Linked DNA regions of Homo sapiens. The protein of the gene in region 1 interacts with the protein of each later gene in a biochemical or structural test. Each region holds a gene or a part of one and is shown in the gene's direction. Other genes may lie near its edges.

Region 1 (4,116 bases):
GGCTGGAATGCAGTTACGTGATCACGGCTCTCTGCAGCCTCGACTTCCCAGGCTCAAACCATTCTTCCACCTGAGCCTCCTGAGTAGCTAGGACCACGGGCTTCTACCACCACGCCTGCTGATTTTTTTCTTTTTTGTAGAGACAGGGTCGGGCTATGTCTGCCCAGGCTGGTCTTGAACTCCTGGGCTCAAGCGATCCTCCCACCTCAGCCTCTCAAAGTGCTAAGATTACAGGCATGAGCCACCCCACCTGGCCTTGTTAGTTTTAAGAGACAGAGTCTCACTCTGTTGCCCAGGCTGGATTTGAACTCGTGGGCTCAAGCAATCCTCCCGCCTCAGCTTCCCAAGTAGCTGGGAGTACAGGCAAGTGTCAGCTTCCTTTAATTTTTAAACCTACAGTTAAATTCTCTCCATCTTCATCTGGCTTGATTTTTCTCCTTGGTCCTTGTCACTCTCCAATATAGGATACATTTATACCGTTATTTTCTATTTCCCACACTGAGTGTCACTTAGCAAGGGAAGTGCCCATCTTGTTAACAACTGTGTCCCCAGTGTCCAGTTCAGGGTGTGGAAAAGATCAGTGCCCAGTCCATGTTTGTTTATTTGTTTGTTTGTTTTTTGAGACAGAGTTTTTGCTCTGTCACCCAGGCTGGAGTGCAGTAGTGCAATCTTGGCTCACTGAAACCTCTGCCTCCCGGGTTCAAGCGATTCTCCTGCCTCAGCCTCCTGAGTAGCTGGGATTACAGGGGCTCACCACCAAGCCCAGCTAATTTTTTTTTGTATTTTTAGTAGAGATAGGGTTTCGCCATGTTGGCCAGGCTAGTCTTGAACTCCTGACCACAAGTGATCCACCTGTCTTGGCCTCCCAAGGTGCTGGGATTACAAGCATGAGCCACCACGCCTGGCCTCTGTTTTCTTTCTTTCTTTCTTTCTTTCTTTCTTTTTTTTTTTTTTTTTGTTGTTATTGTTTTGAGACGGAGTCTCGCTCTTGTCACCCAGGGTGGAGTGCAATGGCGCGATCTCGGCTCACTGCAACCTCTGTCTCCTGAGTTCAAGCGATTCTCCTGCCTCAGCCTCCTGAGTAGCTGGGATTACAGGTGCATGCCACCACGCCGAGCTAATTTTTGTATTTTTAGTAGAGACAGAGTTTCACCATGTTGGCCAGGCTGGTCTCGAACTCCTGACCTCAGGTGATCCACCTGCCTTGGCCTCCCAAAGTGCTGGGATTACAGGCGTGAGCCACCACCACACCCGACCCCCTGTTTGTTTTTTGAGACAGGGTTTCACTCTGTCACCCAGGCTGAACTGCAGTGGCGCGATCTCACCTCACTGCAACCTCTGCCTCCTGGGCTCAAGCAACCCTCTCACCTGAGCCTCCTGAGTAGTTGGGACTACAGGTGTGAGCCACCACACCCTGTTAATTTTTGTACTTTTTGTAGAGATGGGGTCTTGCTATGTTGCTCAGGCTGGTCTGGAACTCCTGGGTTCAAGCCACCTGCCCACCTCAGCCTCCCATAGTGCTGGGATTACAGGTGTGAGCCACAGCACCTGGCACAGTACGTTTGGTGAATGACTCTGTGGAATAATGGAGCACTCATATATTCTGAGCACTGGTGACCCAACCTGCTCTTCCTGACACTTTGTGCCCCTGGGCAAGCTCCTGCTTCTCCCAGGGGGCTGAACTGGATGATATCAGAGCTCATTTCCTCTTCGAGGGCCTTATGTGCAGGTCCTCTCTGACCTTCATCTCTTCCTCCCTAGGACACAGCAGGGCAAGAGCGGTACCGGACCATCACCACCGCATACTACCGGGGCGCTATGGGCTTCATCCTCATGTATGACATCACCAACGAGGAATCCTTCAATGCAGTGCAGGACTGGTGAGTGTACCCCACTTGCTCTTTTTTTTTCTTTTCTTTTCTTTGAGAGAGGGTTTTATTCTGTCACCCAGGCTGGAGTGCAGTGGCACGATCAGGGCTCACTGCAGCCTCGACCTCCTGGGCTCAAGTGATCCTCCTGCCTCAGCCTCCCAAGTAGCTGGGACTACAGGCATATACCACCACACCTGGCTAATTTTTTTGTATTTTTAGTTGAGATGGGGTTTCCTCATGTTGCCCAGGCTGGTCTTGAACTCCTTGGCTCAAGTGATCTGCCCACCTTGGCCTCCCAAAGTGCTGGGATTACAGGCGTGAGCCATCGCTTCTGGCCTTCCACACTCATTCTGGGGCCATTGTCTCTGAGCCAAACTTTCTTCAAAAAATAATAAATAAAACGTAGGGGTCAGAGAAGGATTTCAGATGGAAAAGTAAAACTATAACCATATAGAAACAAATATCTGCAAGTGTAGGGTGGAGAATATAGAGACTATAAGGAGAGTTGGCATGGCCGGGCACGGTGGCTCACACCTATAATCCCAGCACTTTGGGAGGCTGAGGCAGGTGGATCACCTGAGGTCGGGAGTTCGAGACCAGCCTGACCAAGATGGAGAAACCCCATCTCTACTAAGAATGCAAAAATTAGCCAGACGTGGTGGCGCACACCTGTAATCCCAGCTACTTGGGAGCCTGAGGCAGGAGAATCGCTCGAACCCGGGAGGTGGAGGTTGCAGTGAGCCAAGATTGCCATTGCACTCCAGCCTGGGCAACAAGAGCAAAACTCTGTCTCAAAAAAAAAAGGAGAGTTGGCATAGGTTAGAGATTGTAAACATTTCAATTTTCTGCTCAGAAGTAATAACTTTAAAAAAAAATTTCTGGGTTGGGCACAGTGGCTCATGCCTATAATCCCAGCACCTTGGGAGGCCGAGGTGGGTAGATCTTGAGCTCAGGAGTTCGAGTCCATCGTGGCCAACATAGTGAAACCCTGTCTCTACTAAAAGCACAAAAAATTACCAGGCATGGTGGCTCATGCCTATAGTCCCAGCTACTTAGGAGGCTGAGGCAGGAGAATCACTTCAACCTGGGAGGCGGAGATTGCAGTGAGCCTAGATCGCGCCACTGCACTCCAGCCTGGGCGACAGAGCAAGACTCTATCTCAAAAAAAGAAAATTTCTGGGCTGGGTGGCTCATGCCTGTAATTCCAGTACTTTGAGAAGCGAAGGCAGGCAGATACTCCAGCCTGGGCAACAGACCCAGACTCTATCTCAAAAAAAACCCCAAAACACAGAAACAATAATGGGTCAGTCGGGGGCTGGAGTGGGGTGAAAGCGGGGCACATTGGGGGAAAGGATGGTGGGGAGGATGGAGGGGCAAGCTTCTGGGTCTTTCTTCCTCGGACAAGGACACAGGCTCCACATCAGCCCGTCAGGGTGGAGCTGGGATCCTCCAAGCCCTGACCTGCCCCCATTGGTGCCTCCTATAGGTCCACCCAGATCAAGACCTACTCATGGGACAATGCCCAGGTGCTGCTGGTAGGAAACAAGTGTGACATGGAGGATGAGCGGGTGGTGTCATCAGAACGTGGCCGGCAGCTAGCTGACCACCTTGGTGAGTGCCCAGCTGGGCTGGAGACCCACAAGTCTAGAAAAAGGACACTAAGAGAGGGGAGGGCACACACCCAAGGTCTTACAGCTAAAGCCAGGTAATTCACACTTTCTGCAAACTAGCCTTCATCCAGGAGCCATTTGAGTTGGATCCTGAGGGATGTGTAGGAGTTTGCCATGCAGAAAGTTTAAGGATTTATTCTGACACTCACCGTCCAACGCTTTGTTGGGTGTTGCTGGGCTCAAGAGGCATCTAGGGGTGCCTCGAGGGACCCCTGAGGTAGAGGGAGGGACCTGGATGGGAGGAGCACATGAGAGGAGCCAGGCTTCCTGGAGTGGTGGGTAGTGAAGAAGGGTCTTTCAGGCAGAGGAAATAGCTTGGGCAAAGGCTTGCAGTGAGAAAGGTCCTGTGTGTTTTGGTAATAATTTCACAAGACTGGAACATGAGGGTCAGCTGGAGGAAATGTGGCCGATCACAGAGGGCCTCAACCATGTGCTGAGAGGCTGGGACTCTTTGGAGGGCAATAGGGAGTCACAGAGGGTGTGTGAGCAGGGGGAGGTCACAGCTGGATTTGAGTGTCAGAGCCTTCCAGGGCCAGTGCACGGGGCTGGGCTGGACGCTGCAGGGCATGTCTTGC
Region 2 (3,952 bases), on another chromosome or scaffold:
CTTTAAGTTAAATTAAGTTAAAAAAATAGCCTAGGAGAGAAACATATCAATTCTCTCATCATCATTGCTAAGGAGTCTTGACTAGGAAATTGTTGTTCAATTTAAACCCTTTTCTATATTGATTCTTTTATAATTATATCAAGAAAATTCAGTCTCCAGGTTTCAAAGCTGATAACATTACCTATTTTGAAAAGATTGCCTATTTATTTCTGCCTTTATCAGCAAGAGAAGCTCATCCTTAATGCCTATCATTGGGCTAGGCATTAGCAGAAGCTTCTTAAATACAATAGGATATGGTTGAGTGTTTTTCTTATCTGGGATCAGTGTTTCTTGGGAAGTACCTACAGAGATACTCTGAACTACATGTGAGTGAGTATGATGATAGCGAACATCATTAGAGGAATTAGAGTAGATAACTCATGTGTAAGCACCAGAGAGCAGTTATGTGATGTGATGGGGCTACCTAGAGCCAAAAAACACAAATTAAAGATTTACCGTGTTGTGGGGCATCTTGATACACTGCAGAACAGTCCTAGCGAGGACGGGTCAAGAAAGACACTGCATTGATGAGTACAATATACCCAGAAAATCCAGGCTGTTGGAGGATGTGTGTGTGTGTGTGTGTGTGTGTGTGTGTGTGTGTGTGTGTATCAAAAGCATCCAAAAAATCACATTGTTGTGGCTGTGAACACTTAACTAGTAAATAAGAAAGACACGGTGGCAGGGAGGAAAAAGAAAATGTATCCACAGGGTGTTCCATTCTGCTGTTCAGAACATTGTGGTTGCTCAAATAATATTAATGCTCTATGATGAAGATGGTAGCGAGGATGATGATGATTAATGCGACCCATGCAAAATAGGGCTGGGGAGGATGACATAGGCGAGGGACCAGAAGAGGGAGGATGACTCATGGGTGAGGGGTACCTGGGGATAGAGCGAGGTGCTGTGCACGTTGGCGACTGTAGGGGTAGCGGCCGGGGCACGCGTGGCTCGGACCCGGGGAGTGGGCGGGTGGGTGCCCGTGGGCGGAGCGGCGCCGGGACTGAGTGGCTGGCAGCTATGTCTGCGAGAGCAGCGGCATCACCCTGGATGGAAGCCTCTGAGACTCCGCCTAACTGACACCCAAACTCTCCCTCTCCCTCCCGCAGCCCCAAATTGGAGGCAGCAGAGCCTGGGAGCAGCCTCCACGGCGGCAGCGGCCGCCCCAGTCCCAGCCCCAGCCCCAGCCCCAGCCCCGCCCCCGCCCCGCGCCCCGCCGGAGACGCCCGGATCGGCGGAGCCTGGCGCGAGCCCTCGCCCCCTCGCCTCTCCCGCCGCGCCTCCGCCTGCCCGCCCCCGCCGGCCGAGGCTGGGCTGCGGGAGGCGGCCGGGCGGCCCCGAGCTTCGCTAGGGCGACCAAAACAAAGGCAGCATCCGGGGCTGGGTGGATGCAAACAACCATGAAAGACTGGGTTCTCGCTCTCCCCGGCTCTGCTGCTGCTGCTGCTGCCGCCGCCGCCGCTGCTCCTCCTCCTGCCGCCGCCGCTAGGGCTCCGCTGTGAGGGGGAAGCAGGGGCGCAGCTGCTGGGCGTGCATCCGAAAGGTGAGAGCCAGAGAGCGAGCAGAGGGGGCGGGCAGGCCACGAAAATGTCCTCGGCCGTGGGGCCCCGCGGTCCTCGCCCACCCACGGTGCCTCCCCCCATGCAAGAGCTGCCCGACCTGAGCCACCTGACCGAAGAGGAGAGGAACATTATCATGGCAGTGATGGACCGGCAGAAGGAAGAGGAGGAAAAAGAAGAAGCCATGCTCAAGTAAGCCAGCCCCAGCCGCGCCATCCATGCCTCCGTGCCTCCATCCGTCCATTCACCACTCACTCCCCTAGTCCTCGCGGCTGAGTGTGGGGAAGGGGCTGCCAGGGTGCTGGGTGCGGACGGAGGCGCCCGCCTTGGGCCAGGGGCGCGGGGCTTGAGCAGGGAAGAGGTCAGGGGACCGGAGGAGGGAGGGGATATGCCACAGATCCAGGAACCCAAAGGCCGGGGGAGGATGACTTGAGACTGGGGTGCAGAGGAGGGATGGGTGGACGGGGGCCACGCTCGTGGTGGGAAGTGCAGAAGCTGAGAGGTGCTGATCCCACCCAAGTGGAAGGTCCCTGGGCTGGGAGCAGGTTAGGGGGCAGGGGATGAGTAGAAACAAGGGGAGGCAGGATGAAGAGGTGCTGAGGACAGCTCCTCTTCTCTTCTTGGAGTTGTTTAGCTGGTCGGGGTTACCCCAGTGAAGGCTGCCTATATTTATATAATAAAAATGCTTATTTTTAGTGTTCATTTTAGTAATCATTCATCTCACAGATCAAGGTTGGGTCTTTTTTTGGGCAATTGCCATCTTTGGTAACCTGCCTCCCCAGCTTCTCTTTAACCTTTTATTCAGAGTCTTCTACACAGCATACCTGTGTGAAGACAGATTCTCTTCTCCATATGTAATGCCACTGGCAATACAAAGTTTTTAATCATGGGAGAAGCTGACAGGGACTCTGGCCTGAATAACATAGAGGTTCCTCTTTAGTGGTTTCCAAGAGACCTCTGGGGCCTGTTCAGTTCCTGGAGGAAACAGTCCAATAAGGGATTGGGAATTTGCACTCCTCCTCACTTCTTTAGAGCGCATCAACCCTTCAAGGGATTTCTGTCTGATGCCCCATTTTCCTGGTGATGGGGAGAAGATGGGACTACTTGCTGGTGGTGCAGGAGTGTGTGACACTGTGCTGCTGCTTGCCTCAGACAAAACTGCTTACAAGGGACTGGCAGAGAGACGGGGCTTTCCTTGCTTAGCATCACCCATAGAGTAGAGCTGAAGGAGGCTTCAACCCTGCCTTTTCTTGGGAAGTCTTCATGTATTCAGGAAAGTTTTCACTCTGAAGCAGGGGAATGTAGGGGCCCTGACTGTGACTGACTCCTTGGTGTCCCCTGCTTAGGCTGGAAGGTGTATCTGGGGCCAGGGGATTGGCATGAAGAGCCAAAAGGAACCTGTTGCATCTGGAGTTACCTGATAGCAAAAGAGGGGTGGGGAGGGAGCAGGGGTGAAACCCAGACACAGAGCACATTCTGCATGGCCTCTCCCCCACCCCCTAGAAGTGCCTCCTCGAGAGAAGATGCTGCCGAAGAAGATTTCTTCTGCTTCCCCTCAGTGCAGCAGTGCCTCATAGGAGAGGAATGGAGGGAGGCTGCATTCACAGACCGATGGTTCCCCAACCAGGGCAACTGACACTCAGATAGGGGAGGGGGATACTGAGGGAGAGATGTGGCTGTTAGGTCACAGCAAAATAGTAGAAATCCAGTCATTCCTGTTCTTTCATTGTAGATTCAGAAAAGGGCCATTAACTCCGAAGGCCAGAGCTGGCCTGGTTCTATAAAGAGCAGCAGGTTTCTGAATTCCCTGCTCCTTCTCATCCAAAAATCAAATACTTTAAGCCTGCCGGCTTGAGGGAGGCAGAACCCTCGTTAATCTGCTGCCTGTCCCTAGTGGAAGAATGACGTCCCTGGTGCTGCAGGCTTCCCCTCTTCTGAGACTGGAAGTAATGGATGGTGTCTGATAGTGCTGCTGTCTGTCTGTCTGGTTGTCAGTCCGTCTGTACTCACTGGTTACAGCCCCTGCCACCTGTCCTGAACACCTTTTCGGCTTGTCAGGATTTACAGGTTTGCTGCTGTTCCTTTTGCTGTTTGCTGCAGACAGCAGGTGGATGGAGGCCTCCAGTAGCTAGTGGAAAATATAGGCTGCTGCTTGCCAGAGTCCGGATAGGAAGGGGAAGGCACGGTGCAAGTAGTGGCCATCATGCCTCTTCATTGGCTGTCTCAAGCATGGTGGAGAGTGAGGGATTTTAAGTGGGAGTGGGTGAGTTTTAGGACAGAATTCCAAACCTGCTAACTGCCAAAGGACAGCAATTATAAGATTGTATGGGCTTATATGGGCAAATAAAAATTAG
Region 3 (3,500 bases), on another chromosome or scaffold:
CCTCCCCAGAAAATGGTTTTTTCTTTTCTCCCACATGGTCAGACTGCAAATTTTCCAAACCTTTATGCTCTGCTTCCCTTTTAAACATAAGTTCCAATGTGAAGGCATCTCTTTGTGAACACACATGACTGAGTGCTTTCAGAATCAGCTGGGTCACCTCTTGAATGCTTTGCTGCTTAGAAATTTTTTCTGCCACATACCCTAAATCATCTTTCTCAAGTTCAAAGTTTCACAGATCTCTAGGGCAGGGAGAAAATGCTACTAGTCTCTTTGCTAAAGCATAGCAAGAGTCACCTTTGCTCCAGTTCCCAATAAGTTCCTCATCTCCATCTGAGGCCACCTCAGCCTGGACATCATTGTTCATATCACTATCAGCATTTTGGCCAAAACCATTCAACAAGTCTCTAGAAAGTTCCAAATTTTCCCACATTTACCTCTCTTCTTCTGAGCCCTCCAAACTGTTCTAACCTCTGCCTGTTACCCAATTCCATAGTCACTTCCACATTTTCAGGTTATCTTTTAGCAGTACCCCACTCCTGGTACCAATTCTCAATGCTAGTGCCTCTTACACTGCCATAAAGATACTACCTGAGACTAGGTAATTTGTAAACAAAAAAGGTTTAACTCACAAGGCCACATGGCTGGGGAGGCCTCAGGAAAGTTACAATCATAGCAGAGGGTGAAGGGGAAGCAAGGCACATCTCACATGGTGGCAGGAGAAAGAGAAAAGGGGGAACTGCTAAATACTTTTAAACCATCAGATATTCTGAGAACTCACTATCACAAGAACAACATGGGAACAGCCGCCCCCATAATCTAGTCACCCCCTAACACGTGGGGATAACAATTTGAGATGAGATTTGGGTGAGGACTCAGAACCAAACCATATCAAGGCTCTATAAGAAATCATATAAACAATATTAAGGAAATTGTATTTCTATTGATATATAGAATGAATGTATTTCAGTTCTCAACAATCTGAACACTTGATAATGAACCTGATGAGGTACTGCCATCCTTGAAGAGTGGACCTCAATACATGTATAGAATTAAAGGGAGAAGTCATAGAATTCTGAAAACAGACTTACGGAAGTTCATGTATTCTGATTAAGTACTGTAGCCTGTTTAAGCAAATTTTTAAGGATAAAACACTTATTTTTTTTTAGTTAATGCCAGAAATGCACACACATTTTAAACCGATTTCCAAAAACGATTTTATCTTTTCTTCCTTGGCCAGGCTGAAACACTTTTCCAGGAAATCTGCCCCAATGAAGATTTCTGTCCCCCTCCACCAAATCCTGAAGACATTATCCTTGATGGAGACAGTTTACAGCCAGAGGCTTCAGAATCCAGTGCCATACCAGAGGCTAACTCGGAGACTTTCAAGGAAAGCACAAACCTTGGAAACCTAGAGGAGTCCTCTGAATAATGGATATACACCAAACTGGATACCCAACTTTGGAAATTCTGACTGGTCTCAGAGTCTACTTGATAGAAGGACTGTTTGAGAAATGTTAGAAAGCAGCAGCAATTATAAGGCAAAATAGGTAATAGAAATCCAAAAGGGGATTTTCCTTATAGAGGACATTCCAAGAACACACAACACTTATAAAGCACATTGACTTGCTCATTTTAAATACCAAACTTGTGTGACTAGCAGATGAAAATTATAAATCAATTGATTCTCAGGAATGTAACTGTGGATATGAAAGTGATCCTATGCATTGTTAATAATTCCATGGTCTTAGGACAATTTTGCTTACCACTTTGGATCTTTGTTTGAAAGCCACATTTTCAGAACCAGCTCATGTATTTTCTTTGGTTATTTGAATTTTATTTTCTTTATGGACAAGAGCATCATAACATAATGATAAAAACATATAGAAAAACTAAAGTATCATGATCTAGATAGAAGCCTGTATTTGGAATACAGGTTTGTTTTGCTTTCTATGTTGAGAAGCATTGAAAATGCTAATATAAAGGTGTTTAGACATTTTTACGAATAAGTCAGTAGTGTTTTTTAGTATCAGTAGTGATATTTGTTTGTAAATTATTTACATATTGGGAAAGGTCAATAATGAAGAAATGAAAGAATGGAAGGAAAGGTGTGGATAGGCTCATTGGTATTTGAATATTCTGTCTGTCAAGTAACTAGAGTATTAGGCTAATTGTCTACAGACCTAATTTAATCCTGGCTGTCCTACTGATGATATTTGGTAAATTGTTTAACTTCTGAGCCTACGTTTCTCCATATATAAAGTGGAAATAGTATTACTATGCCTACTATATGAGAATGGTTATGAAGACAATGCAATGCCATGTTTAGAATCGGTTTGCCAGAAGAAAATTGTTTTAGAATTTTCCCATTGACTTGATGAATCTCAAAAGTCTCACGCAGGAAATAATTGCTTGCTGTCAGTCAACTTCCAAACAAAATAGATCACAGTGTTTTTATTGCATTAAGCTTTTTAAATGAAAATTTCTTTTTTAAAGTAGTATTTTATAGTCTTACAGACCAGTAAAAATAGTAACAAGTAGAATTGTGGTTTTGAAATATTACTAAGGAAAACACTCTATAAATTGTTTTATTCCTTTTCTGGTAGGTAAACCTGCAACCACCAAGGACTCCAAATTGTGTATGACAGTTGGTAAGCCCTAATATACACTACATAAAAACGTTAGGGCTGCCTGTAATCCCAGCACTTTGGGAAGCTGAGGTGGGTAGATCACTTGAGGTCAGGAGTTCGAGACCAGCCTGGCCAACATGGCGAAACCCTGTCTCTACTAAAAATACAAAATTTTAGCTGGGTGTTATGGTGGGCACCTGTAATCCCAGCTACTTTGAAGATGAGGTAGCAGACTCACTTGAACCAGGGAGGCGGAGGTTGCAGTGAGCCAAGATTTTGCCACTGCACTCCAGCCTGGGTGACAGAGCAAGACTCTGTCTCACAAAAAAAAAAAAAGGGGGCTGTACATAGGCAGCAAACTAAGCTGCAGTGATGTTGCCTATATTTAAATTTTCTCAAATGGCCAAGCTCTGATGGTCTACTTTATTTGAGCAATAGTTGAGACTTATAATTGCCTATAAATAAACAAACAAATGAACTATTTGTTTTTTTTTCTCACAACATCTGGCCTATATTGTCTGTCAGGAAGCCATGGCTCCAATGTAAAGTACATAGTTCTTACATACTTCAACTGCAGCTGGTCCCTGACCTCACCAGGTTTCAGAGATGTTCTTAAAGGAAGCCAGCTGTGGCAGGTCACAGATTCATGGGAAATGGAAAGAACCAAGGAATATAGCTCTTGCCTCACCTTTCTACCCACTGCAGATATAGTTCAAGCCAGAGTAATGGAAGAACTTAACTTACTAGCCTCTCAGGCTGCTCCTATCCCTACCTCCCAGTGTACAGCCCCTCCCCATCTCTTTAGTCCCCTTTCCCTCACTTCCCCTTTTATAATGTCACACAAATCAGGGACAGTAGGATCACATTATAACC
Region 4 (3,500 bases), on another chromosome or scaffold:
ATATTTTTGAGACAGAGGCTTTGACTAGACAGGACTGTTAGGATTGCCATTTTAGTTAAACTAAAGGTGTGTGCCCTATGCAATTTAATCTAAGTTCCAATTGAATGGCTTGTTTTTCCAGTATCCAGGATTATTAGTCATCTTGGGCTAGACAGGTACAGCTTGTACTGATTTATATTTCAGTAGGTTTAACAGTAGTGAAAACCAGAGCTCAAAACTGTGCAATGATGAATATTAGAAAGTTTAGCAGTATTGTTGCTTTAGCCTAAAGACTTTCAGGTGAGTATGCTCTTCAGCACCTTGGCCTTTCTACCTCTGGCCACACAGGGCATCACACAGATGTCTTCCGCACATGGAATGTAACCAGCATTATGCTCAAAGTTAACAGGAGAACCTTATTATTTTTTTTTTTTTAAACTTCCCCTTCAAAAATAAGAACAAACAGTGTTAGTCTTGGCAGAGGATGTTTAGATAGACCTTTTGCTTGGGATGCAGAGATTCAGGGTTGCAGAGACAGTGGCGAAATGCAAACATCACTGTATTCAAATGTTAGAAGTAGGTATTATTTATGTTAAGATATTTTAATATGAAATCAGAAGTTTTCCTTTTTTACTTACACTTACACACTTTTTTCCTTTATTACTTATATGCATGTGTACATTCATATAATATTTTTAATACATTTTCCTCCTCAGGGCTATTATGAGCCTAAATATTTTTAAATGGCCAGTTGTTTTACTGAATTAATCCTTTTGTAATAATCTGACTAGTAATTGAGTAGAAATAGTCTCATGTTGCTACCATGAGATCCTAAGGGTGGTTGTGGCATGGAAAGGTCTTATATTCAGCTGTTCTGGAATCACACATAGACTGTAATGGCCACAGAAATATTTTGAATCATGGCAGTATGCACATAGTTTATAATCTGTTTCTATAAACAGTGGAGCCATGCGTTCCTTTTAGTCTAAGCTCACAGCTGTGTATAGATTTATTCACATGATAGTTTTCTTAAAAGCTAAAGTTAGAGAATTGTATTATGTTATTTCTTCTTTATTTTTGTGGAACATTATGTTCATTCTCTATTACTATGTTGCCTGATTCTTGGGAGGGCTGTTATATCTCTATTGTCCATTCTCAAGAAATTAGAAAATATGTGAGAAAGCATTTAAGACATGCTTTAGTAGAGGTTTATGTCCAAATAAGATGTCACACTCCAATGGATTGTCATTGTTGCATGAAATTATTTTTCTCTTATATTGTTTACAATGTATTCTTTCTTGAATTTTCTTCTTTCAGAGAAGAGTTCCAGTCACAAATGCATATATGATGCATTTTGACATTTACTGCTAAGATGAAATGCAGAAATGAAACCACACATCCATTTTAGTATTCTCAGATGTGATTAGATGTACTTGCTCATGTTTTTATGCTACTGACTTATAAGAAAAAAAATATTTTAAAAGGGTAACCGTTAAACAGCTAGGACCTGCAACTTCAGTGCTTCTGGGATAACTGGAACATCAGAAGGACAGATTTTATTACAGCATAATCACACCTCATTTCTTTCATCAGCAGTTGTCACCAGACGCTGTTACTTCCTAAAATGGCGGACAATCTTCCCACAGAGTTTGATGTGGTTATAATAGGGACAGGTTTGCCCGAATCCATCCTTGCAGCTGCATGTTCAAGAAGTGGTCAGAGGGTTCTGCATATTGATTCAAGAAGCTACTATGGAGGAAACTGGGCTAGTTTCAGCTTTTCAGGATTGCTATCCTGGTTGAAGGAGTATCAGCAAAACAATGACATTGGGGAAGAAAGTACTGTTGTATGGCAGGACCTGATCCATGAAACAGAAGAAGCCATCACTCTTCGCAAGAAGGATGAAACTATTCAACACACAGAAGCTTTTTGCTACGCCAGTCAGGATATGGAGGACAACGTTGAAGAGATTGGTGCTCTGCAGAAAAATCCTTCTTTGGGGGTGTCTAATACCTTCACTGAAGTTCTGGATTCTGCATTACCTGAAGAAAGCCAGTTATCGTATTTTAATAGCGACGAAATGCCTGCAAAACACACTCAGAAAAGTGATACAGAGATTTCACTAGAAGTAACTGATGTAGAGGAATCAGTGGAGAAGGAAAAGTATTGTGGAGATAAAACTTGTATGCACACAGTTTCAGATAAAGATGGAGATAAAGATGAAAGCAAATCTACAGTAGAAGATAAGGCCGATGAACCAATTAGAAATAGGATTACTTACTCTCAAATAGTTAAAGAAGGCAGGAGGTTTAATATTGATTTGGTGTCAAAACTGCTGTATTCTCAAGGATTGCTAATTGATCTTTTAATCAAATCAGATGTTAGTCGTTATGTAGAATTTAAAAATGTCACTAGGATTCTTGCATTTCGGGAAGGAAAGGTAGAACAAGTTCCTTGTTCCAGAGCAGATGTCTTTAATAGCAAGGAACTCACCATGGTTGAAAAGAGGATGCTAATGAAATTTCTCACATTTTGTTTAGAGTATGAACAACATCCTGATGAATACCAAGCTTTCAGGCAGTGTTCATTTTCAGAATACTTAAAAACTAAAAAACTAACTCCCAACCTTCAACATTTTGTACTGCACTCAATTGCAATGACATCAGAATCATCTTGCACTACAATAGATGGTCTTAACGCAACTAAAAACTTCCTTCAGTGTCTCGGACGGTTTGGCAACACCCCCTTTTTATTTCCCTTGTATGGCCAAGGAGAAATTCCCCAGGGTTTCTGTAGGATGTGTGCAGTTTTTGGTGGAATCTATTGTCTTCGTCATAAAGTACAATGCTTTGTAGTCGACAAAGAATCTGGACGATGTAAAGCAATTATAGATCACTTTGGTCAAAGAATAAATGCTAAATATTTTATTGTGGAAGACAGTTACCTTTCTGAGGAAACATGCTCAAATGTGCAGTATAAGCAGATCTCTAGGGCAGTACTCATTACAGATCAGTCTATACTAAAGACAGATTTAGATCAGCAGACTTCCATTCTGATAGTTCCTCCAGCAGAGCCAGGAGCTTGTGCTGTACGGGTCACAGAATTATGTTCTTCAACCATGACATGCATGAAGGACACCTATCTGGTACATTTGACATGTTCATCTTCTAAAACAGCAAGAGAAGACTTAGAATCAGTGGTGAAGAAATTATTCACTCCGTATACTGAAACAGAAATAAACGAGGAAGAACTTACAAAGCCAAGACTCTTGTGGGCTCTTTATTTTAATATGAGAGATTCCTCGGGAATCAGCAGAAGCTCGTATAATGGCTTGCCTTCCAATGTTTATGTCTGCTCTGGGCCTGACTGTGGCCTGGGAAATGAGCATGCTGTCAAGCAAGCTGAAACACTTTTCCAGGAGATCTTTCCAACTGAAGAATTCTGCCCTCCACCTCCAAATCCAGAAGACATTATCTTTGATGGTGATGATAAGCAGCCAGAGGCTCCTGGAACCAATAATG

Evidence for each region.
Region 2: the proteins of RAB3A (region 1) and RIMS1 form a complex in vitro, tested with the Homo sapiens proteins (one study listed by BioGRID).
Region 3: the proteins of RAB3A (region 1) and CHM form a complex in vitro, tested with the Homo sapiens proteins (one study listed by BioGRID).
Region 4: the proteins of RAB3A (region 1) and CHML form a complex in vitro, tested with the Homo sapiens proteins (one study listed by BioGRID).

The regions. Positions count from the first base shown.
Region 1 is NC_000019.10:18,198,091-18,202,206, reverse strand, and holds part of RAB3A (ras-related protein Rab-3A), read left to right. Parts: intron 1-1,761; coding exon 1,762-1,880; intron 1,881-3,357; coding exon 3,358-3,482; intron 3,483-4,116. UniProt on the Homo sapiens protein: The small GTPases Rab are key regulators of intracellular membrane trafficking, from the formation of transport vesicles to their fusion with membranes.
Region 2 is NC_000006.12:71,885,398-71,889,349, forward strand, and holds the start of RIMS1 (regulating synaptic membrane exocytosis protein 1), read left to right. Parts: upstream 1-1,152; 5' UTR 1,153-1,626; coding exon 1,627-1,790; intron 1,791-3,952. UniProt on the Homo sapiens protein: Rab effector involved in exocytosis. May act as scaffold protein that regulates neurotransmitter release at the active zone.
Region 3 is NC_000023.11:85,862,559-85,866,058, reverse strand, and holds part of CHM (rab proteins geranylgeranyltransferase component A 1), read left to right. Parts: intron 1-1,237; coding exon 1,238-1,429; 3' UTR 1,430-3,500. UniProt on the Homo sapiens protein: Substrate-binding subunit of the Rab geranylgeranyltransferase (GGTase) complex.
Region 4 is NC_000001.11:241,633,870-241,637,369, reverse strand, and holds part of CHML (rab proteins geranylgeranyltransferase component A 2), read left to right. Parts: intron 1-1,175; exon of another isoform or gene 1,176-1,296; coding exon of another isoform or gene 1,297-1,337; 5' UTR 1,338-1,572; coding exon of another isoform or gene 1,573-1,603; coding exon 1,604-3,500. UniProt on the Homo sapiens protein: Substrate-binding subunit (component A) of the Rab geranylgeranyltransferase (GGTase) complex. Binds unprenylated Rab proteins and presents the substrate peptide to the catalytic component B.